4 separate regions of the Homo sapiens genome follow, and all the other regions are linked to region 3. Evidence: fine-mapped QTL for protein levels in blood plasma. Region 3 holds a variant in brackets. A gene starts in each other region. All regions are shown on their reverse strands.

Region 1 (6,045 bases), not on the chromosome of region 3:
TTTTTAGGAGACACGGGGTTTCACCATGTTGGCCAGGCTGGTCTCAAACTCCTGACCTCAAGTGATCCACCCGCCTTGGCCTCCCAAAGTGCTGGGATTACAGGCGTGAGCCAACGTGCCTGGCCTCAAACAATTAATTAGACTAGTAGGTAGTCAGACCAAAAATAAAGAAGACGCAGATATAAAATTCAAAAGAAAAATTTGCAAATCTCTGCAAATAAGTCTGCAAACCTGGGCGACACTGATGATTTTTTAGGAAAATATAAATCATCAATGTAGGCCAAGAATAGACTTTTTTTTTTTTTAAGAGACGGGGTCTTGCTTGCTATACTGCCCAGGCCAGTCTCGGACTCCTGGGCTTAAGCTATCCTCCCACCTCAACCTCCTAAAATTCTGGGATTACAGGTGTGAGCCACTGCACCCAGCTAGATTTTTTTTAATGTAGACCAAAAATGATGAGTGTTATTAAGAAATTCTTTCCCTTCCATCAAAAAAAAAGAAGCAAAACTCAGACAGTTTTACAAGCTAGTTCTCTAAAAACTTCAAGGAACAAATAATTTCAATTTTATGTAAACATTTGCAGAGAACACGGAAACAGGGAGATCTCCCTAATTCTTTCCATGAAGCCAGCATAATAAATCAAGACAAACATCTGACCAGATCTCCTAATGTAGTTCACCTCCTTCATAGCTGAAAGGATAATAATAATAATAATTTCTATAAATAATAAAAATGGTATTTTGTGGGGGCCGGAGGCCAAGGCTGGCAGATTGCCTGAGCTCAGGAGTTCGAGACCACCTTGGGCAACATGGTGAAACCCCGTCTCTACTAAAATACAAAAAAATTAGCCAGCAGTGGTGGTGGGTGCCTGTAAGCCCAGTTATTCAAGAGGCTGAGGCAGGAGAATCACTTGAACCCGGGAGGCGGAGGTTGCAGTGAGCTGAGATCAAGCCACTGCACTCCAGCCCTGGGTGATAGAGTGAGATTCTGTCTCCAAAAAAATAAATAAAAATAAAATAAAAAATGTTTTGTAGGGGCCAGGTGTGGTGGTTCATGCCTGTAATCCCTGCATTTTGGGAGGACAAGATGGGAGGATCCCTTGATCCCAGGAGGTGGAGGCCAGCCTGGGCAACATGGTAAGACCCTGTCCCTAAAAAAAATTAAGAATCCAGCTGGGTGTGGTGGCACACACCTGTAGTCTCAGCTACTGGGGAGGTTGAGGTGGGAGGATCACTTGAGCCCGGGAGGTGGAGGCTACAGTGAACCGTGATTGCACCACCGCACTCCAGTTTGGGTGACGGAGGGAGACCCTGTCTCAAAAAAATAAAAATGTTGGCCAGGCTTGGTGGCTCACGCCTGCAATCCCAGCACTTTGGGAGGCCAAGGTGAGTGGATCACCTGAGGTTGGGAGTTTGAGACCAGCCTGACCAACATGGAGAAAGCCCATCTCTACTAAAAATACAAAATTAACCAGGCATGGTGGTACATGCCTGTAATCTCAGCTACTCGGGAGGCTGAGGCAGGAGAATCACTTGAACCTGGGAGGCGTAGGTTGCAGTGAGCCAAGATCGCGCCACTGCACTCCAGCCTGGGCAACAAGAGCAAAACTCCATCTCAAAAAATAAATAAATAAATAAATAAATAAATAAATAAATAAAAGTAAAAATGCTTTGTGAATAGTCATTGGTGGATCCCTTCTTCCTAATAATGAGAAGCTCTGGTCCTTTTTCCCTGAGTCAGCAACAAGGCAGGGACAACCACTACCACTATGTCCGCTGGGCCTCACTCCGGCTGTACCAGCCAATGAGTCAATGGGAGAAAGAGAAACAGATATTAGACAGGAACTGAAACCTTCCCATGCACACCGACCCTATGAAACAGAAGAACACCCAAGAGAATCGCAGGAGCACCTGTTATGGGAGGATGACCCGTTTCCAAGTCAAGACACCAAAAGTAATAACCTTCCCACAGACAAGTAGTTAGCAAATATAATTGCAGAAAACCTCCGATCTGTAAGGAAAGCAACCACAAAGACGTACAATACCCTAGGACTAGGCCTGAGGAGTCTGCACAGGAGCTGTCTGAGGAGAGCGGTGGACGTGACTGAAGGCACAGCAGGTGACTCTGCGGGAGGAATCCCTGCGCTTGGACAGGGAAGACTCAACTCCACGCTTCTCCCTAAAGAAGATCTCAGCGCTTCTCTGCCCGATCTTTTCCCTCCTCGCCCTCCCCACCACCTTTTCTGTCCCCTCTGTCCCATATCCCCTTCTTGGAGAGGACTGACCCCTGGTTCTCAGGCCCATGCAGGGGCTAACCCCAGCCAAGGCTGCCTCGGGACTTCCCCCTGCTCAGGCCCCAGCCGCTGGGCTGCCCTGGTTAAATCTCCGCATTCCAGAGACTATCGATCTGCTCCCCACCCCGACCCTATCTCCCTCACCGCCCCACCCCCTCCTCCGTACCCTGCACCTAGTGAGGCCGGCATCTCCCCCACCCTCCCCACACCCCCCTCCTCCATACCCTGCACCCAGTGAGCCCGGCATCTCCCCCACCCTCACCACATGCCCCTCGCAGTCAGTGGCTGCCACTCTCCACCCACCCTGACACATCCTGCCTCTCGTCCCCCTTCCTGTAAGAATTCAACTGAAAACCTAAAAGGTCCCTTTTCTGCACCCACCCCTTATCACTTGCCCCGCTGTGGTTCAGCCAAGGTACGTGGGTGCAGAGCCGGGAGAGGCCCTGGCTCCTTCCTCTCCCAGGGGTGTGGACCTTCATCTGTCCATCTTATGTGGTAGACAGAGCGCACCGCATTCTGCGTTCTGCACGGAGTCCAGACTCGGGGCGTCTCGTGTGATACCTGCCCTGCGGCCCTGCCCCTCGCACCCTCCCTCCCTGCCGCAGACTTTCCCGGGAAGGGAAACTCTCACCTGGGACCCAGAGAAGCAACAGAGCCCAAGGCAGCCACATGGTCCCTTCCCCAGCACAGGCGGCACTTGCAGCAGCTCCAGGCCCTACCTGGACCCGAGGGGAAAGTCACGCCTCCAAGGCCCCGACTTCTGCTTTTCTTGGTGCCGCGCTGCTTCCTTGTTCAGCTTCTTTTGGTTCTATTCCTGGAGCCGGTCAGAAAATGCAGGAAGCTGGTGAGCCCCGACTAAGACTCCCTAGAAACGGCACGTCCTCCTTAACGCTGGTTGAGGCTGCAGGTTCTTCGGCTATTTCTAGTGATGAGACCTCTCCCTGTAGTGACTCCGTAGCTTGCAGGACTGATCCCCGACTCTCACTTCCCCGGGTCTCCTCCTAGTGGAAGGCCCAATAACTCCTCCCTCCTTTCCTTGTGGTCAAGGTGGGCAACCCTGGGGGTGGGACCCGCTGAGCTGGCTCCTCTCACCCTCGGTGGTGCCCACGAGGAGGCTGCCAGGGGGAACTCCCCTTTCCTGAGTCCCTTCCCTGAGTCCCTTGGAGGTCCAGGCCTGGGCTTCGGGGCTGAGGGAAGGGGAGTTGTCATCGTGACTCCAGAGTCCCTGAATGGTTCCTAGTCTTGGAAATGTGTCCTCAACTTGACACAGAGGTCCTCCGGCCATGCCTTCCTTTCTATATAGCCCCATTGGAGCCAACTCGGGGCTGGGCACAGAGCAGGGACTCAGCGAGCCTGCAAGGACCCCTTTCCTGATCCACACAGAGTGCAGACTCTAAACACACACACGCTCACACTCACATACACACTCACACCCACACACACTCACCCACACACATTCACAAACACACACTCACATACACACACTCACACTCACCCACACACATTCACAAACACACACTCACATACACACTCACACAAACACACTCACCCACACACATTCACAAACACACTCACATACACACTCACACAAACACTCACCCACACACATTCACAAACACACACAAACACACTCAGCCACACACATTCACAAACACACAAACACACCCACACATTCACAAACACACTCGCATACACACAAACACACATTCACACACCCACACACATTCACAAACACACACTCACATACACACTCACATGCACACATATTCACACACACCCACACATTCACACTCACACATACACACAAACACATTCACAAACAAACACGTTCATGCACATACACTCACATATACACACTCACACACACATTCACAAACACTTTCACAAACACATACACACACGTACACACAAACACATACACACATTCACAAACACGTTCATGCACATACACACACACACACAAACATTCACACACCCACACACAAACACACACAAACACACTCACACTCTCACATACACACACACTCACCCAAACACACTCACATACACACACATTCACACACACCCACACACATACACTCACACAAACACATTCACACACCCACACACATTCACAAACACACACATACGCACACATTCACAAACACACGTTCATGCACACACACATATACACACACACAAACACACAGGCACTCTCACCCACACACATTCACAAACTCACATTCACACACAAACACAAATTCACACACACTGATACAAACACACATACACATTCACACATTGAAACACTCAAATTCACACAACGCACTTACATATACAACTGAAATACACTCACACATTCACACACAAACTCACACACTGACACATTCACACACAGTGACATACACTCACACACACACAGTCTCACACACGTGCCTTGAGTAGGTGCCCCAGCTTGCACAGAATGACCAGGTGGGCACAGGAAATGCCACTCCTAATGTGTAATGCGTCACCTGGGAGCTTGCAGTCCCCAAGCTCAGAGTGTCCACCCACATGGAGCCCTGTGCCAGCTATGGGATCCCAAGAATATCCTTCCCTCTGGCCCTTTTTGGAATTTGTCACTTTCCTCTTCCTTCTGAACACAGGGGCGCCTTGCCCACGAAGGTGTCAGGAAGCCAAGGAGACCTATGGGCTCTGCTGCTGGAAGATTCAATGACAAAGCCTGGTGGACATTGTGGAAATTTTCATGATGATGCAGTCATAGATTAACTAAACCTCATTAAGATCCAAGACACTTCGGGCCGGGCGCGGTGGCTCACTCCTGTAATCCCAGCACTTTGGGAGGCCGAGGCAGGCGGATCACGAGGTCAGGAGTTCGAGACCAGCCGGGCCAACGTGGCAAAACCCTGTCTCTACTAAAAATAAAAAAAATGTGGCGGGCACCTGCAATCCCAGCTACTCGGGAGGCTGAGGCAGGAGAATCGCTTGAACTCGAGAGGCAAAGGTTGCGGTGAGCCAAGATCGTGCCATTGCACCCCAGCCTGGGTGACAAGAGCAAGACTCCGTCTCAAAAAAAAAAAGATCCAAGACACTTTGGATCATGACACTGTTGAGCTGAACATAAAAATGCAGGAGATGTGTCATATTCGGTGGCTTATGTGGCCTGATCATTGCAAAGTTTCTCAAAAATTATTTTTTGATTCAACCATGACCAAAAAGGCGCTGCTGCAATCTTGAACGTCCAGGCCAGACAGAGAAGCAGAAGGCTAAGTTCTGGCGTGGCTTGTCCACTTACCACCGAATGAACTTGAGCAAAGCCTGTGGCTTCTGTAAAACGTCAATAATGACAGCTCCTCTGTGGGAATAAATATTATTATGATTATACAAATACTGAAATGTCAGTGTTCCTTAACATCCTCAGGTCAGTTTTTTCTGAGGGAATATATCTCTACTTTTGATGAAAGGTAATAGGAAAATTGGATTCCACAGGAAGTGCGCTTTACACTTTAATCTATGGGATGCAATTCTCCTTAGGCACATAGAGAAACACCTGACTTACTGCAAAGGAGAAGGGATCAGGGGACTTAGACCCTGCCACGCCCATCCTGCTCACCCCATCCTGTCCACAAACCCAAAGGAAGAAACAAAATGGTGCAAAATAACCACAAAACATGAGAGTTTTTTGCCGGAAGTTGCACATTCCGGCTGTGTCCCGATAACCATCAGGTGACATGACTCAGGGGGAGGAGGAGATGAGGCCACAGGGCTGAGGC
Region 2 (6,198 bases), not on the chromosome of region 3:
AGCCTGGGGACAGAGCGAAAAAATAAAAAAGAATGAGGACATTCTACATGAGCTGAAACAAAAGATTTTAGGCTGGGCGCGGTTGCTCATGCCTGTAATCCCAGAACTTTGGGAGGCCGAGGTAGTTGGATCACTTAAGGTCAGGAGTTCGAGACCAGCCTGGTCAACATGGTGAAACCTTGTCCCTACTAAAAATACAAAAAATTTGCTGGGCATGGTGGCTCGTGTTTGTAATCCCAGCTACTCAGGAGGCTGAGGCAGGAGAACTGCTTGAGGCAGAGTTTACAGTGAACCGAGTTTGCACCATTGTGCTCTGACCTGGGTGATGGAGCAAGACTTCGTCTCAAAAAAAAAAAAAAAAAATTTAAATACATTTAAAAAAGAAGGTTGCATGCTGTGGAGCAACCAGACAATTGTGATGAAATGTGAAGCACAAGGCACCAGCTGTGACGTGTTTTTGCCAAGAAGTCAAACCACGTTCCAACTAAACCTCTAGAGCAAACTTTCATTTTCAGCAAATTCGAAGAAAAGAGGAATAATGTAAATGACCCCACAGGGAAACAGACAAACCCTGAATGTGGAGCATTTCACAGGACAAAACCTGGTTTGTATAACTGGTTTGTATAACCAATGGCAAGGGGGTGGAGGGCAGACTGTCTTCGATTAAAAGAGACTTGAGGGACATAGCAAACAAATGCAATGCTGGGACTTGTTTGGATCTGGATTTAAACAAACTGATTGAAAAAAGACATTTTTGAGATAATCAGGGAGATTTGGCTATAGACTGAAGTACTAGGTGCTTCTAAGGCATCATTAAATTTGTTATGTGCGATAATGATATTATGATTATATTAGCAGAATGTCCATTTTTGTTTGTTGGTTGGTTTGTTTTGAGACGAAATTTTGCGCTTGTTGTCCAGGCTGGAATGCAGTGGCACAATCTCGGCTCACTGCAACCTCTGCCTCCCTGGTTCAAGCGATTCTCCTGCCTCAGCCTCCCAAGTAGCTGCGATTACAGGCACCCACCACCATGCCTGGCTAATTTTTTGTATTTTTAGTAGAGATGGGGTTTTCACCGTGTTAGCCAGGCTGGTCTCGATCTTCTGACCTCAGGTGATCCACCTGCCTCGGCCTCCCAAAGTGCTGGGATTACAGCCGTGAGTCACCACACCCGGCTTCAGAATGCCCATTTTTTAAAAAGGAAGATTGCACACTAAAGTACGTAAAAGTGAAATAGCACGATGTCTGGGATTCGTTTAAAAATATTTCAGCAGACTCGGCATGGTGGCTCACACCTGTAATCCCAGCACTTTGGGAGGCTGAGGCAGGAGGATCCCTTGAGCCCAGGAGTTTGAGACCAGCCTGGGTAACCTAGTGAGACCCTTGTCTCTAAAAATAAATTAAAACAAATTTAAAAAAAAATAAAGGGCCAGGTGCGGCGGCTCCTGCCTGTAATCAGCAATTTGGAATGCTGGGACGGGCAGATCACCTGAGGTCAGGAATTTGAGACCAGCCTGGCCAACATGGTAAAACCCTGTCTCTACTAAAAATACAAAAATTAACCGGGCATGGTGACAGGTGCCTATAATCCCAGCTACTTGGGAGGCTGAGGGGAGGCAGAGGTTGCAGTAAGCCGAGATAGCACCATTGCACTCCAGCCTGAGAGACAAGAGTGAAACTCCATCTCAAAAAATAAATAAATAAATAAATAAAAATAAAATAAATAAAATAAATAAAATTTTAAAAATAAATATTTCAGCAAATAACAATAGGAAAATGCAAGTTTCAAAAAAGGTATATGGTATTTTGTCTAAGAAAAGAGAGTATGAGAATATATATTTTATTTTCTTGGGTTTGCATTGGGAGTATACACAAGAAACTTATGAAAATGAAAACCTGGTCGGGTGCAGTGGCTCAAGCCTGTAATCCCAGCACTTTGGGAGGCTGAAGTGGGCAGATTGCAAGGTCAGGAGTTCGAGATCAGCCTGACCAACATGGTGAAAACCCATCTCTACTAAAAATACAAAAATTAGCTGGGCACGGTGGCAGGTGCCTATAATCTCAGCTACTCAGGAGGCTGAGGCAGGAGAATCGCTTGAACTTGGGAGTCGCAGGTTGCAGTGAGCTGAGATCGTGACGCTGCACTCCAGCCTGGGTGACAGGGCGAGACTCTATGTCAAAAAAAAAAAAAAAAGAAAACCTATAGCATAGGTGGGAGAAATGGGGGTAAACATGGAAGGATGGGATCATGGGATCAAGGCTTCTTGAGCTTTTTATATTCCTTTTACTTTTTAACTATTTGAATGTATTATCTAAAGTTTTTAAGAAAATAAACAGGAAATAAAAGTTAAGTGAACATGAAAATGTTCAGAACCAGCTCCCTACACACACAAGAGAGTTAAAGGAGATCTCTAGACCCCTTCATATCTAGACTTTAATGAACTAATAAATTGTTAATGTTTTATAAAGCTGGTCTCAGTAGCAATTCTAGAAATGAGCAGAAAACAAAGTGGTAAAAACAAAACATCGCTGGGCACGGTGGCTCATGCCTGTAATCCCAGCATTTTGAGAGGCCGAGGCAGGTAGATCACCTGAGGTCAGAAGTTCGAGACCAGCCTGACCAATATGGTGAAACCCTGTCTCTACTAAAAATACAAAAATTAGCCGGGCATGGTGGTGTGCGCTCTTAGTCCCAGCTACTTGGGAGGCTGAGACAGGAGAATTGCTTGAACACAGGAGGCGGAGTTTGCAGTGAGCCGAGATCGCGCCACTGCACTCCAGCCTGGGCGACAGAGCAAGACTCTGTCTCAAAACAAAAACAAAAACAAAACAAAACAAAACACAGAAACTGAGGGCTGATGCTTTTAAGAGCCTTGACCAAGTTCATGCTGCTAATAAAAATAACCCCAGACCCCATATTTAATCTATTCTACCTTATGCTTGAATATGGTCATTTGCTGGTTATTAGTTATGTGGGAAGACAAACATTAAATTAATAAAACATAATTTATAGTGGAAAAAATCTGTCACTTAGGGGGCTTATGCTCTCATTCTAAATCACCAATCATGTGCCTTTCGGCAAATCAATTTTCTGAAGTCTCAGATTCCTTGTCTATAAAATGAGAAATTGGCCGGGCGCGGTGGCTATGCCTGTAAACCCAGCACTTTGGGAGGCCGAGGCGGGTGGATCGCCTGAGGTCGGGAGTTCAAGAACAGCCTGACCAACATGGAGAAACCCCGTCTCTACTAAAAATACAAAATTATCCGGGGTGGTGGCACATGCCTGTAATCCCAGCTACTCAGGAGGCTGAGGCAGGAGAATCACTTGAACCCGGGAGGCAGAGGTTGCAGTGAGCCGAGATCATGCCATTGCACTCCAGCCTGGACAAAAAGAGCGAAACTCCATCTCAAAAAAATAAATAAATAAATAAAAATAAAATAAAATAAAATGAGAAATTGATTATGATCTCTTGAGTAACTGCCACTCTGCAATGCTATGGGAAGTACACACATTGAACAAGTTGCATATTTATATTAAATGCCATTTGTTTATATTGAACAAATTTGGTATTTATACCCAATGCATTTAATGGCATAAATGTGAATGACAAAGAAACTCAGGAAGGCAAGACATAGAGGAAGGCCACTGGCTTTTCAGAAACCACTCAGCCTGTGAGCTCACTTCCCTTTTATAAAAAAAAGCTTTTGCTTTTAAGGTGTCCAGATAAAGGTCACACTCCCAGAGCTGAGGCTACGTGAGTCTAAGCTGTTACCTCAGTTATGGGAGTGTGGCTGGAACTCAACACTTTCTGATCATTCATGGCCAAAGCCTCTTGGGGTAGGGGAGAGGGGGCACCTTGTATGCATGAGATGAAACAGGATACCAAGATCCCCTTAATTCTACTCAGAGTAGAGGAAAGGAACTGTTGCCAAAAGGAACATGTTTTTTCTAAATTGAAGAGTTGGAAGTTTGAAGGTCAAAGTCAGAATATTAGAACAGAGAGCCATGCATGTATTATCTAATACAATTTTCTCATTTTATAAATTATATAAATGAGGAAACTGAGACTCAGCAAGGTTATAGGATACAACCTAATCTGTGTTAGAAGAAGGATGAGAGTGAGGCTTATGCTGGGAGTTGCTATGGTCTGTAAATGTGAGGATAAGGAACATGCCATTCACTGTTGTGTTCCACTTCCTAGTCCAGTGCCTGGTGCAAAGTAGGGGCTTCATAAACTTTGGTCACAGGCCTGATGAAGGGACTGATTTGAGTGAATGAATCCATGGATGATGCATCTGTACTTTGTGTTCCCCGCTAGTCAGATGGACTCGGACATGCTCCATTTCAGGTGTATCTCATCTGAGACATTATTAGAGGGTTCTCTTTATGTGCCATGACTGAGTAGCGTTTTCTTCCACTGAAGTATTGCTTCCTCTTTGTTGATATCACAGGACAGACATCAGAACACTTACAGGATGTGTGTAGTGTGGCATGACAGAGAACTTTGGTTTCCTTTAATGTGACTGTAGACCTGGCAGTGTTACTATAAGAATCACTGGCAATCAGACACCCGGGTGTGCTGAGCTAGCACTCAGTGGGGGCGGCTACTGCTCATGTGATTGTGGAGTAGACAGTTGGAAGAAGTACCCAGTCCATTTGGAGAGTTAAAACTGTGCCTAACAGAGGTGTCCTCTGACTTTTCTTCTGCAAGCTCCATGTTTTCACATCTTCCCTTTGACTGTGTCCTGCTGCTGCTGCTGCTACTACTTACAAGTAAGTCTCGGCATGGATATTTACAATGACATAATGGTGCTGTACAGAGGACAAGGGAGAGATACAAGGATGGCCATTGTAATGTTGTTTGTAATAGCAAAAGCTTGGAAGCAACCTAAATGTCCGTCGATGAGGGAGTGGGTAAATAAATGTGATATAATCATGATACAAACAGTGAGTCTGACAAAACATACTGGTATAGAATGTCTCAAAATTATAATGTTATTAAAGAAAAAAAGTTGCAGAATAATGCATATATTAGGCTTCTATTTGTGTGTGTGCATTGTCGGGGAGCAGGAATATGTGGACATTTCTTAATGTATAAGCTCTAGGAAAAGGAACCAGGGAATGGTAAAGAGTTGGGAGAGTAAGGCATATTTTTCTTTTCTTTTCTTTCCTTTTTTTCTTTTTCTTTTCTTTCTTTTTCTTTTTTTCAATTGAGATGGAGTCTCACTCTATTGCCCAGGCTGGAGTGCAGTGGTGGCACCATTTTGGCTCACTGCAATCTCCGCCTCCCAGGTTCAAGTGATTCTCCTGCCTTAGGCACCGGAGTAGCTGGGATCACAGGCGTGCACCACCACACCCAGCTAATGTTTTTAATTTTTAGTAGAGACAGGGTTTTACCATGTTGGTCAGGCTGGTCTCAAACTCATGGCCTCAAGTAATCTGCCCATCTCAGCCTCCCAAAGTGCTGGGATTACAGGCGTGACCCACCGTGTGCCCGGCCACTTTTTCATACACCTTTGATAGTGTTTGAATGTTTTTACTGTAGTTGAGTCATATGAAAACAAAGGGGACATAAAAAATCAAAAGAAAATATATAATGAATGTTTTATCATATATAAAATATATATAGTTTTTTTTTAATGGAATTAACTTTGTCATTTGAGGAAAATGAGGAGACAAGTCTCAATCATTTTAGGAGATTTGTTTGCCAAAGTTAAGGAGGCACCTGAGAGACAGGTCTATGACTTTCTCAGAAGATGATTTTGAGGGCTCCAGATTTAAAGGGGACAAGGTGGGATATTGAGAAGCACTCAGTTTTCACATAAAAAAGGGGGGGGGGCAGAGGAAAAATATGGGGAATCTGCATTTTACATTAGATAACACAGACAAAATGGGGTAGGGAAACAATCAGATAACGCATTTGTGTCTGGCCAGGGTGACCGCACCGGTAAAGATGAGCTATCAATCTGCATTGCACAGCTGACCAGGAATTTCCTTGTGGGCAAAATATGGGGGAGGTATGCAGCCTTTCATCCTGTAGCCATCTTATTCAGGAATCAAAAAGAGGAGGCAGGTTTCTGTGACCCAGTTCCCAGCTTGACTTTTCCCTTTGACTGAATGAGTTTGGGGTCCCAAAATTTAATTTCTTTTCACAACTTTAAACCTTAAAACAACTCCATGAGTAGTTTCAAATACAC
Region 3 (6,285 bases):
ACATTGGGTTTCTAGGGAGGGACCAAAGGTCATATTCTAGATGCACTTAGGGCAATATAATAATTCTAAAGTTGTTGAGGAAGCCAGGGGTATGTTGGCAGTGGCATGAGTGGTATTGTCTTTGAGTTTGGTGCTGCAATCAGTGCTGACATTGCAGACATCCCCCTCACCCCTACTCCATCACCCTCATTTTCTCCCACCTTACTTTAAACTGATTTTTTTTCTCAAACATCCAATTATCAAGCATGAGTCTTTGGATGGAAATAGTCTCCTCCAGCCTGGATGAAGACGGCAACACCCTCTTCTGACAGGGGAATGAATGCCTCCCCACCTGATATTTGACTGAAAGAAGTTTATTTCAGTTGCTTAAATAGTAGAACTTTGAAAATATATCATGGACTTCTTTCAACTTGTTACCACGGTCACAGAGTAGGGTAAACCAGTTATTCTGCTTTGCCTGGGGAGTAAGGGGTTTCCCAGGATATAGGCTTTCTGGGCTAAAACTGAGACAGTCCTGGGAAAACCAAACAATTGGTCACCCTGACGCTGAAGGGCTAGAATTTGTGTGAAGTCCCAACTCTATGAATGGGGACATTTGGCATCAAAAAGAACCCCAAGAGGCAGGTTTTATAGAAAAAAGGATCTGTAGGCTCTCTCTGGGATGGGTGGCTACCTTATTCAAGGTCAAGGTTACAAGCTATAAAGAGTCCATGGTACATTTAAAAATGTACACTTTTTAAATAACTGAGGTAAACCTCCTCCAAGCTTGGAATATAATCCAGGAGCAACATTGTGTAGACGAAAGAGCACTGGTCTAGAAGGCAAGAAATTTGGGCTCTACTCTTGGTTCTACCAATGGGACAGCCAGGAAAACCTGGGCTTCCTAGCCTGTTCTAAGCTTTTTCTCTCTAAATTGTAAAATAGGGATTTTTAAACTAGAAGAATTAACTCTGACGTTCCTTCAATTCCAACCAGCTGAGATTTGATGGTCCTTATACTTACAAAGGGCTTAGTTGATTGTTTTCCAGAGATAATTGAGAGGGATCCAGTAATGCCAAACTGCCCAGAAGAGAGAGAAATGATCAGTTCAGTTGTCTTGTGGAAATGTGCCCACCATGTCACTGTCAATCACTCAATCAAAAAGTGATGTTGGAAAACTTTTAGGGAGAGAACACTGCAGAAATCTTGTGGATCTATATTGCTAGATAGGCCTAATTCCCACCTGATATAAGAATGTCTATATTGACTTTGAATGACATGCAGATGCACAGAGGGGTTGGATTTGTTTTAGTGGAAATCACTAGGAACTGAGGAGGCCTGGAGAAAAGGTGTACCTGGGAAGGAGAAGAGTGTTACTAAATTACAGGGTTGAAAGAGAGGAGGTTGAGATGGACCAATGACTTGAATGGACAGAGAGATTGGAACAGCCAACAGAAGCACTCAGGAAAGAGGCTCTGATGGGACAAGGTGCAGAAACACATGGACTGGAAGTTATTGGTGTATGTTGCTTGAGTCAGAATGGGAGTCGAGGAAAGTGGGAAGAGCAGGCTCAGACGTGAAGTCTTTATCATAAAGCCCCAGAAATCAGTATTTAATCTCAGTGGTATTAAAGATCCAGCTGGCAGAGGAAGGGTATTCTGAGAAGCTGAAAAGTTGCTTAAGTGTGTGGCTTGGATATTGAATAATCACAGGCAAAGAGGGTCCAGTATGAGCTAACGCTAGCTTCTCTAAGGAGATGTGGGGCCCACAACCACTGGTTACAGGAGAAGTCAAGGACAAATTGTGCTCTGGGGCAGGACCAGGGCCTCCTTATGTGACTGCACAGTTTGTGTTCACACAGGGACTGTATCCACACAGAAGTGGTACCTTAGTATAGTTCATTTGCCCAGAATATTTGATTTTTATCCTTTGTACCAAATACTACGTGGAGAAGAAATAACCCTTTGTGGGAAGTGTGAGTCTGCCCTGGCCACTCTCTGAAAAATGGATCTACTGGGCCCTTTTTCATGAGCCATTAGGTGGAAGGCAGCAAAGAGAGTTTCTCTAGTGCTCAGGGTTACCTCTGGACACACAGCAAGCATGTCCCTGCCTCCCATGAATCTTACCCTTGTTAATCCAAATCTCTGCAAACCTGTGGCATCAACCAGTGGTGCTCGTTTTATTGTTTAAAAATGGCCTTCTCACTCTCTACCTGAAAAGTTGATTATTCTTACAATGGAGGGAATCCAATGGCCTCATCAAAGCCTCAAAGAGGGATATGGAAAATCATCCACTTTTCTAGAGGTATGCTGTAATGCCAGGTAAGAAATTCTGTGCTGGTATACCCATTGTATTACCATTCCCTCTTGCCCCCTGCTCTGCAGGAAGACAGATTAAGTCTCTCTGCTGCTCTTCTTGAATAGGGGAAATGTGACGTGGGGCAATGATAGAAGGAAAGTCGAGGCCTTGCCGCCTTTTGCCTCCTGGCCTCTTGGAGTCTGAGTCACTCCACGACTATGCACCTGGTTAGCATTTATAAAGCATGTCCCCTCTTAGAGTCCCCATTCTACTCACACACAGAGCTCCTAAAAATGGGTACCCAGACATCAAAGTGGTGGAAATTGCTGGATTGAAGTGGGAGGGGTAGGGAGCAAAAACCAAGATGGCCCCCAGACTTGAAATCAA[C/T]AGGCAACACAGGATCTGGACAGTCTACAAGAGAGAAGACAGGAAATCTAGACTGCACTTCAAACAGATAAAAGTGATTATTTGAATGCACACGGTAAAGTATAAAGAGTATAAAATACATTATAATTTGTTATATTAAAGAGGAAAAATGTTACAAGGAGCCAATCGATATGCTTCTAGAGAAAGTCATGTATAGCTAACCTCTTCTTTTCTGATAGGATTATTAAACCAGCAAATCGGAAAGTGATCATACACACATTTTAACTTTTTTTGAAAAAGATACTTGACAGTTTTTAAATTTATTTTCTTGAAAAGTAGATAAAAAAGTTGTCCAGTGAGGTGGAAATAGAGAGCAAACTTTTCACAGGAGTGTTAATGAAGAGATTTTTCAGTTGAAATTAGATAGAGCAGGTCATCTCTTCTGCTGTAATTCATCTTATTTTGTTCATCATTGGATTTTAATAATAATTATTTCGCAAGTGGAAGAACTGAAGTTTAGCTGTTAGCTTGCTCTAAAGCCCATGCTTTTGCTCATAGTTTAATGCATGTGCAATTGAAAGATGATGCAAACATAGGAGAAATAAAAAAAGAAGTCAACCATTCACATCATCAACAGTTATTGAATACCACAACAGGTATGTTGTGTGCCAGGCACGAGGGAATGAAGCAAATGAAAATCACTACCATTGGAGAGCTTATATGTGTACTATGTCTTGTCTGTAAAGGTACAGACAAGTTCCATGCAAGGCAGAATAGAGTTAAGAGCAAAGTAGTAGGACATGAGGCTTGTGAAGTACTGGAGGCATGGTACAAACTATGTAGGGATTTTTAGGCTATGTTTTACCAACTTTGCTTTTCATTTTGAGCAAAAAAGGAATCCCACTGGATAATTTTGAGCCAGGAGAATACATGATCTAACTTTCATTTTTAAAAGAGTACCCTACCTGCTGTACTAAGAATAGATTGTAAAGAAACAGGGCAGGGAGATCCATCTAAATAGGCAGTGAATAGGACCTGGGTATTATAAGAGGGTATTCAAAACCACATGGAGATTAAAGTTCTGGATATGAGGGATGATGATCTGGGACACTTGGATGTCTTATAGTTACTCATATGAACGGGGAAAAATGGGTCATGAGATTAGTCTTGATCGTCTCATCTCAAAATATTTGAAAAATAAGCTCAAAGTTAATTTAATCATATTGAGTAAAATCCATATGGTTAAATAGAAAATTTTTACTGTACTAATGACAAAATAAGAAAGACTAATTTGTGGCTGGGCACAGTGGCTCATGCCTGTAATCCCAGCACTTTGGGAGGCCAAGGCGGGCAGATCACAAGGTCAGGAGTTCAAGACCAGCCTGGCCAGTATGGTGAAACCCCATCTCTACTAAGAATACAAAAATTAGCCGGGCGTGGTGGCGTGCACCCATAGTCCCAGCTACTCGGGAGGCTGAGGCAGAAGAATCACTTGAACCCAGGAGGCGGAGGTTGCAGTGAGCTGAGATCGTGCCACTGCACTCCATGCTGGGTGACAGAGGGAGATTCTGTCTCAAAATAAATAAATATATAAATAAATAAAATAAGAAAGACTAACCTGTTAATTGTGAAGCATGCTAGTGAAAAAGATCTAGTGGTTTTAGTTTCTAGAAACTGCTGCAGAGCTTTAAGAGTCTTCCCTTAAAGCTCCATTTCATGTCCTCATTAGCCTGGAGTCAGCCAGAAAAGAGTGAAAGAGTTTCCCAGACCCACTGTAGATCTGTAGTCTAGATACATTTACAAAGTATTTTCTCAGTATTCCCCTTATAATGAGGTGGACTTACCCCAAGAACGGTGGTTTCTGTTGGCAGCCCGTTCTGCAGGTAATCTTCGTTTTGGTACATGTGTCCAGGTTTCTCTCTTTGAGGGATAGTGATGCCCTTTGGTGTAAAGCTGTGAGAAACCCCCATGGTTTGGGATTGTAATAGCATGATGCTGATGATGCTGGAAGAGGCATCAAAACTCAGTTACTTCCCAAGGTTTGACTTACAGACATAAACTTCCCAGGGACCATACTTTGTAGGAACTTAAGAAGGTATTTGCCATTATTCCAAGGCTGGTTGTCCTTCAGAAACAAAACATGGGGATCAGTGGAGCATTGGAAAGTGGGCATGCTGGGCACAGTTCATCCATTGTGGTCAAGAAGCATGTCACTGGGAGAGTACTGTACACATTTTGAGGGGTCCCACAATTGAGAGGTGAGCAAATCACATAGAACTTGCTTTGTAGCCCTGAATGTGTCCATCTCCCTCTCCCTCCAGTGACCTCTGCTTCCAGCTTCCCTTCCCTATCTCCTGTATCTCTGCTTCACTTGTGCTACCTTCTCACACCACATCTTCCAGGATTACACTTTTATGCTACACCTGCACTGATCAGTCTTCTACTCCAGTCTTCATTTTGTCTTCGTAAAAATGTTGAGGATGAATGCTGTTCCACTTTCCTTTCCTATAGCGAGATGGCCTGTCCCATCCGGAATCTTCCTCCTTGCTTATATTGGCTTCGTAATTAGTAATGTAAACATTTACTTAACTCCTGCTGAATTCCAAGCATTAGACCATTGCAGCTCTAATCCTTATAACAACCCTGTAACTTACATGTTATTAAATCAATTTTATACATTAGAAACCTGGGGCTAATAAGCTCAAGTGACTTTTATTGAATGAAATAGTCACATAAAGTACTTAGCCTGGCACTTAGAATGTGTTCAATATATGGTAGCAAATATTAACAGCCTGTGTTTACATGACTGGATTGAGACTTGTCTGGCTCAGACGCTTGTGATATTTTTTTCTCTATGCCATGTTAATTCTCCTCCTCTTCCTCTTCCTTCCTTTCTTCCTTCCTAACATTTCCAGTTCCCTTGTAGATTCCAGGAGCAAGTTGTCTGCCACCACTAACTCAGCAGCATTGCTGGGCCTCTGTGGTGTCAGCAACAAGGCTCAGCACCTGAAATGTTGCCCAGATTTGTTTTCAGCTCAACATTCTCCCTACTGAAGGCCAGAGTTTAGTTAAAGGCTTGTCATCCTTGAAAGGTGCCACAGCTCTGCTGCCTGACATTTTGCCTCAATGTGTTGGTGCTTTAGGAATGGTTCTGGCCTCTCTTGGGTGGAGTGAAGAACATGTAAAAATTGGAAATGACACCTAGAATCTCTTCCTAGTGAGGGAGATGGAAAAGTGCACTGGGATGGGAGTCCAATGCCTAGGCATCTAGTTGCACATCTGACCATATGTCTTGGAGTCCAGTCGTGTGTTCAGATCCCATATCCACCAGTTACTGCTAAACTCACCCTGGGCAAGGTATTTTCACCACTTCATAGGTTTGTGGTACAGGTTGGATAAGATGACACATATAATGGACTCAGCATAGGGGGAGGCATGTGATAAACTCCCAAAACATATCAGTTTTATCTAATATTCATTGGAAGCCCAGTTCTGATATTGATGAGCTGGCCGTAGGCAGGATACTTTCCCTCATTCATCCCCAGTTTCCTTATCTGTAAAATAAGGATAATGACACTATCCTGAAGGACTCTTGTGAGGATTTGAATGACACACGTGAGTGTCTTTTGTTGTAACTCTCTG
Region 4 (5,000 bases), not on the chromosome of region 3:
CAGGTGCATGCCATCACGCCCAGCTAATTTTTGTATTTTTAGTAGAGACTGGGTTTCACTGTGTTGTCCAGGCTGGTCTCGAACTCCTGACCTCAAATGATCCACCTGGCTCGGCCTCCCAAGTGCTGGGATTGCAGGAGTGAGCCACCGCGCCCGGGCCGGAAATTCATCATTTTAAAGCAAACGATTCAGTGACATTTAGCACATTCAGTGTTGTGCAACCACCACCTCTATCTGGTTCCAGAACATTTGCATCACCCCAAAAGGAAACCCCGCATACATCAGCAGTCACTTCTCACTCCCGCCTCCCCCCAGCCCCTGACAACCACTCAGCTACTGTCTGCCTCTGTACATTTGCCTATTTTGGATATTTTATATAAGTGGAATCATACAGTGTGTGCCTTTCCTGTCCATCTTCGTCCACCCAGCATGATGGGTTTTTTTTTTTGTGTATGTGTGTTTTTTTTTTTTTGAGATGGAGTCTCACTCTGTCACCCAGGCTGGAGTGCAGTGGCACGATCTCAGCTCACTGCAACCTCTACCTCCCAGGTTCAAGTAATTCTCTCTGCCTCAGCCTCCCGAATAGCTGGAATTACAGGCACATGTCACCAGGCCTGGCAAATTTTTGTATTTTTAGTAGAGACAGGGTTTCGCCTTGTTGGCCAGGCTGGTCTCAAACTCCTGACCTCAGGTGATCCGCCCACCTCGGCCTCCCAAAGTGTTGGAATTACAGATGTGAACCACTGCACCCAGCCCAGCATTATGTTTTTGAGGGTTCATCCACATGGTAGCTTGGATCAGAGCTTCTCCACTGACATTTAGAGGCTTTGCCGACAGTGGGGAGGGAGGGGCAGGAAACAAAATACTCAGAGGCTAAGAAATGGAACATGGGGGAAAGACTAAGTTGCATCTCTTAAATTTTTTTTTTTTTTTTTTTAAGAGACAGGATCTTGCTCTGTTACCCAGACTGGAGTGCAGTGGCACAATCACGATTCACTGCAGCCTCAACCTCCTGGGTTCAAGCCATTCTCCCACCTCAGCCTCCTGAGTAGCTGAGAATACAGATGTGTGCCACCACGACTGGCTAACTTTTAATTTATATATATATATATATTTTGAGATGGAGTGTCACTCTGTTGCCCAGGCTGGAGTGCAGTGGCGCGATCTCGGCTCACTGCAACCTCCACCTCCTGGGTTCAAGCGATTCTCCTGCCTCAGCCTCCTCAGTAGCTGGGATTACAGGTGCCTGCCACCACACCCGGTTAATTTTTGTATTTTCAGTAGAGACAGGGTTTCACCATTTTGGTCAGGCTGGTCTCAAACTCCTGACCTCGTGATCCACCTGCCTTGGCCTCCCAAAGTACTGGGATTACAGGCGTGAGCCACCGCGCCTGGCCTAATTCTTTATTTTTTATAGAGATGGGGTCTTGCTATGTTGTTTAGGTAGACCCAAACTCCTGGGGTCAAGTGATCCTCCCACCTCGACCTCTCAAAGTGCTGGGATTAGAGGGGTGAGCCCAGGTGCACAAGGCTGGAGCTTGGCATGTGGGGAGGTGGGCATTGTGGAGGGCCAGCATGCTGCAAGCTCTTTGTAACAATTTGTTGGAAGGATGAAATTAGGCCATCCAAGAACACTGCCCTCCTTCAGCTCTTGAGTCTCAGATTCAGAAGCTGGCGAGATGGCCCGGTGCGGTGGCTCACGCCTGTGATCCCAGAATTTTGGTAGGCCAAGGCGGACGGATCATTTGAACCCGGGAGTTTGAGACCAGCCTGGGCAACATGGCAAAACCCCCTCTCTTAAAAAAAAAAAAATGCAAAAATTAGCTGGGCGTGGTGGTGCATGCCTGTAGTCCCAGTTCCTGGGGAGGCTGAGGTAGGAGGATGGCCTGAGCCTGGGGAGGTTGATGTTGCAGTGAGCCGTGATTGCACCACTGCACTACAGCTGGGCCACAGATCAAGACCCTATCTCAAAAGAAGAAAAAAAGAATTTGGCAGCCAGGCACGGTAGCTCACGCCTGTCATCCCAGCACTTTGGGAGGCTGAGGTGGGTGGATCACTTAGGGTTAGGAGTTCGAGACCAGCCTGGCCAGCATGGTGAAACCCTGTCTCTACTAAAAATACAAAAATTAGCTCGATGTTGTGGCAGTTGCCTGTAATTCCAGCTACTCGGGAGGCTGAGGCAGGAGAATTGCTTGAACCCGGGAGGCAGAAGTTGCAGTGAGTGGAGATCATGCCACCACACTCCAGCCCGGGCGACAGAGCAGGGCTCCATCTCAAAAAAAAAAAAAAAAATTGGCTAGAGAGGGCCAGAGACCTGGCCAAGTGCATGGAACCACAGGTGGCCCATGGGCCCATGGGGCTGGCATCTGGGTGTTCAGTTCAGGTCTGGGGCCAGCAGGGCAGAACCCCCTAGAACCCTGACTTGCTCCAAAGTCAGACTTGCTCCAGAGTCTGTGGCCGCCACCATCACCACCACCACGGAGCTGACTTCCTGGGTTTCTCTTTCACTTTGACTTGCCTTAGGGATGGGCTGTGACACTTTACTTTTTTTCTTTTTTCTTTTTTTTCAGTCTTTTCTCCTTGCTCAGCTTCAATGTGTTCCGGAGTGGGGACGGGGTGGCTGAACCTCGCAGGTGGCAGAGAGGCTCCCCTGGGGCTGTGGGGCTCTACGTGGATCCGATGGAGCCGCTGGTGACCTGGGTGGTCCCCCTCCTCTTCCTCTTCCTGCTGTCCAGGCAGGGCGGTGAGTCCCCTGACCCTGGCATGGCGGCTCCTCTTGCTGGGTGGAGGCACGTGTATGTGTGGAGAGCTGTGGGCCTGCTGTGTGGGTTGGTTTCATCTCTCTGTGCCTCAGTCTTTCCTGCTGTCAAATGGGAGATGGGCAGTCATGGCTTCTGGGATCGAACTTAGACATCTTTCCTCTGGTCTAGATTTTCTCTTCTGTGAAATGCACTAAATTTTTTCCACCTCCCGGAGTTCAATGAGAAAAAAAACTAAGGAAGGAATAAAAAGCAAGTATGTATCTAATAGGTATACATAGTATAGTATCTTATGTATGTAGTTTACAATAGATAGACATACATAATATAATGTATACAGTCATTTCCATATTTACGGGGCAATGGTTCCAGGACCCTCTGCAGATACCAAAATCCAAAGATGCTCAAGTTCCTGATATAAAATGGTAAAGTATTTGCATATAACCTATGCACATCCTTCCGTATACTTTACTTATTTATTTATTTATTTATTTATTTATTTATTTATTTATTTATTTACTGAGGTAGGGTCTCACTCTGTGTCCCAGGCTGGAGTGCAGTGGCCTAATCATAACTCATTGCAGCCTTGACCACCTGGGCTCAAGTGATCCTCCTGCCTTAGCCCCTTGAGTAGCTGGGACTGCAGGTGCACACTACCATGCCTGGTTAATTTTTTTGGTGTATACTTTTTACAGAGACAGCGTCTCGCTGTGTTGCCCAGGCTGGTCTCGAACTCCTGGGCTCAAATGATCCACTCACCTTGGCCTCCCAAAGTGCTCAGATTACAGGCATGAGCCACCATGCCCAGCCTTCCCATATACTTTTAATAATCTCAGGCCCTGCACGGTGACTCACTCCTGAAAATCCAGCACTATGGGAGGCCAAGATGGGTGGATCACTTGAGGTCAGGAGTTCGAGACCAGCCTGGCTAACATGGTGAAACCCCATCTCTACTAAAAATGCAAAAATTAGCCAGGCTTGATGATGGGCACCTGTACTCCCAGCTACTTAGGAGCTGAGGTGGGAGGATCGCTTGAACCCAGGAGGCAGAGGTTGCAGTGAGCCGAGATTGCAGCACTGCATTCCAGCCTGTGTGGCAGAGCAAGACTCTATCTCAATAATAATAATAATAAATAAACTTTCCTTCTCTGTACACTGGGGATCAGCGGGGTGCTGACTTTTTCAATGGCTCTTGAGATGCACTGAGTGCCTGTAGAATGCCCACAGCAGTGCTGGCCACACCTCAAGGTCCCAGCGCCTTCAGGGGCCAGGCATGGCTGGAGACCAGCAGCAGGGAGGGGGCGAGAGGCAGCCCACGAGGTATCCTGGAGATAGTGGCAGTGAGTGGTCAGTCCAGGGAAAGGGAAGGAGGATGGGCTTTAGGCTCTCAGGGGTGGGTGGGTGGGTGGGGGTTCTGTGTCATCACAGAGAGAGATGGAAGGATGGAGAGCCTTGTGTGTTAAGCATCTTTCCCCCCTCAAGGTTGGACACTTGGGGCTGTTTCCTGGGGTGCCGCCTTCTCCCCCAAGGCTTCCAATCTGCCTGCAGGGCTCAGGACAGGTCCTTCTTGTGGGAGTGAGGGCGCCGGGGTCTTCCTGACCCATCCATGGTGGCATCCCCCTCCTTCTCTCACCCAGTTCCACACCTAGCAGACTGTGGCAATCCCAAAGGGCACGGGGATCCCAGTGGCTGAGGGAGGTCGCTGCCTCCTGGAGAAATGTTATTAATAATTGCCCTGACTGCTAGTGGGCCAAGTGTGCTTGCCTGGGCCAGCCCTGGCAGGCCTCTCCCTGCCATGCACCCTCTACTGTCTTTCCCCATGCTGGCTTCAGACACTGGTGCCACCCCAGGCACACCTCCACTTCTCTCTGCCCTCCAGACTGTTGGTCTTACTGTTCTTTCCTGCAGGGGTACCTCCCGAGAGTGTCTCCCAAATATGCATCTCAACCTCTGAGGACTAAAGGGTGGTGGATGAATGGATAGACAGGTGGATGGGTGGGTAAATGAATGGATGGATGAATTAATAAATACATGTATGTATGTATGGATGGATGGATGGATGGATGGATGGATGGATGGATGGCTGGATGGATATATCGGTAGGTAGATAAATGGATGGATGGGTGGGTGTATGGATGAATGAATACGTGGATGGATAGATGGATAGATTGGTGACTAGATGGATAGATGGATGGTTGGGTGAATGGATAATGGATTAATGAATGCATGGATGCATGGATA

Direction of the effects. Positions count from the first base shown, and alleles are read on the strand shown. Strength reflects both the effect of a copy and how common the allele is.
In carriers of allele T in region 3, the plasma level of the protein whose gene starts at base 3,034 in region 1 tends to be higher than with C alone (weak association).
For the plasma level of the protein whose gene starts at base 4,656 in region 2, C is the low allele of the variant in region 3 and T is the other (moderate association).
As copies of C replace T in region 3, the plasma level of the protein whose gene starts at base 2,569 in region 4 goes down (strong association).

What was found. PIP is the chance, under the fine-mapping model, that this variant and not a neighbour inherited with it causes the effect. The UK Biobank Pharma Proteomics Project read protein levels with antibody pairs (Olink). The fine-mapping took linkage between variants from a reference panel, not from the people measured, so its PIPs are less certain.
Region 1: it holds the start of CD300A, and the variant in region 3 is fine-mapped to the plasma level of the CD300A protein (UK Biobank, PIP 0.96).
Region 2: it holds the start of HAVCR2, and the variant in region 3 is fine-mapped to the plasma level of the HAVCR2 protein (UK Biobank, PIP above 0.99).
Region 4: IL12RB1 starts here. The variant in region 3 is fine-mapped to the plasma level of the IL12RB1 protein (UK Biobank, PIP above 0.99).

What each region holds. Positions count from the first base shown.
Region 1 is chr17:74,463,623-74,469,667 of GRCh38, reverse strand. CD300A (CD300a molecule) reads right to left here and starts at 3,034. Exons shown (of 7, transcript NM_007261.4): 1 at 2,925-3,034. The coding sequence starts at 2,964. LOC124904056 (a long non-coding RNA gene) reads left to right here and starts at 1,894. Exons shown (of 2, transcript XR_007065899.1): 1 at 1,894-2,118; 2 at 4,918-5,660. RefSeq lists an enhancer at 1,893-2,022 and silencers at 2,383-2,442, 2,483-2,542.
Region 2 is chr5:157,107,502-157,113,699 of GRCh38, reverse strand. It overlaps HAVCR2 (hepatitis A virus cellular receptor 2), which reads left to right and starts at 4,656. Exons shown (of 7, transcript NM_032782.5): 1 at 4,656-4,774. The coding sequence starts at 4,717. RefSeq lists an enhancer at 4,720-4,869.
Region 3 is chr11:60,381,491-60,387,775 of GRCh38, reverse strand. MS4A7 (membrane spanning 4-domains A7) reads right to left here. Exons shown (of 7, transcript NM_021201.5): 2 at 4,488-4,647; 3 at 2,554-2,688; 4 at 1,003-1,059. The coding sequence starts at 4,634. Among named protein-coding and RNA genes, the nearest start is that of MS4A7, 6.1 kb to the right of the region's middle. The variant C/T (reference allele first, on the strand shown) is at 2,665.
Region 4 is chr19:18,084,503-18,089,502 of GRCh38, reverse strand. IL12RB1 (interleukin 12 receptor subunit beta 1) reads left to right here and starts at 2,569. Exons shown (of 17, transcript NM_005535.3): 1 at 2,569-2,743. The coding sequence starts at 2,680. RefSeq lists enhancers at 2,238-2,297, 2,308-2,657.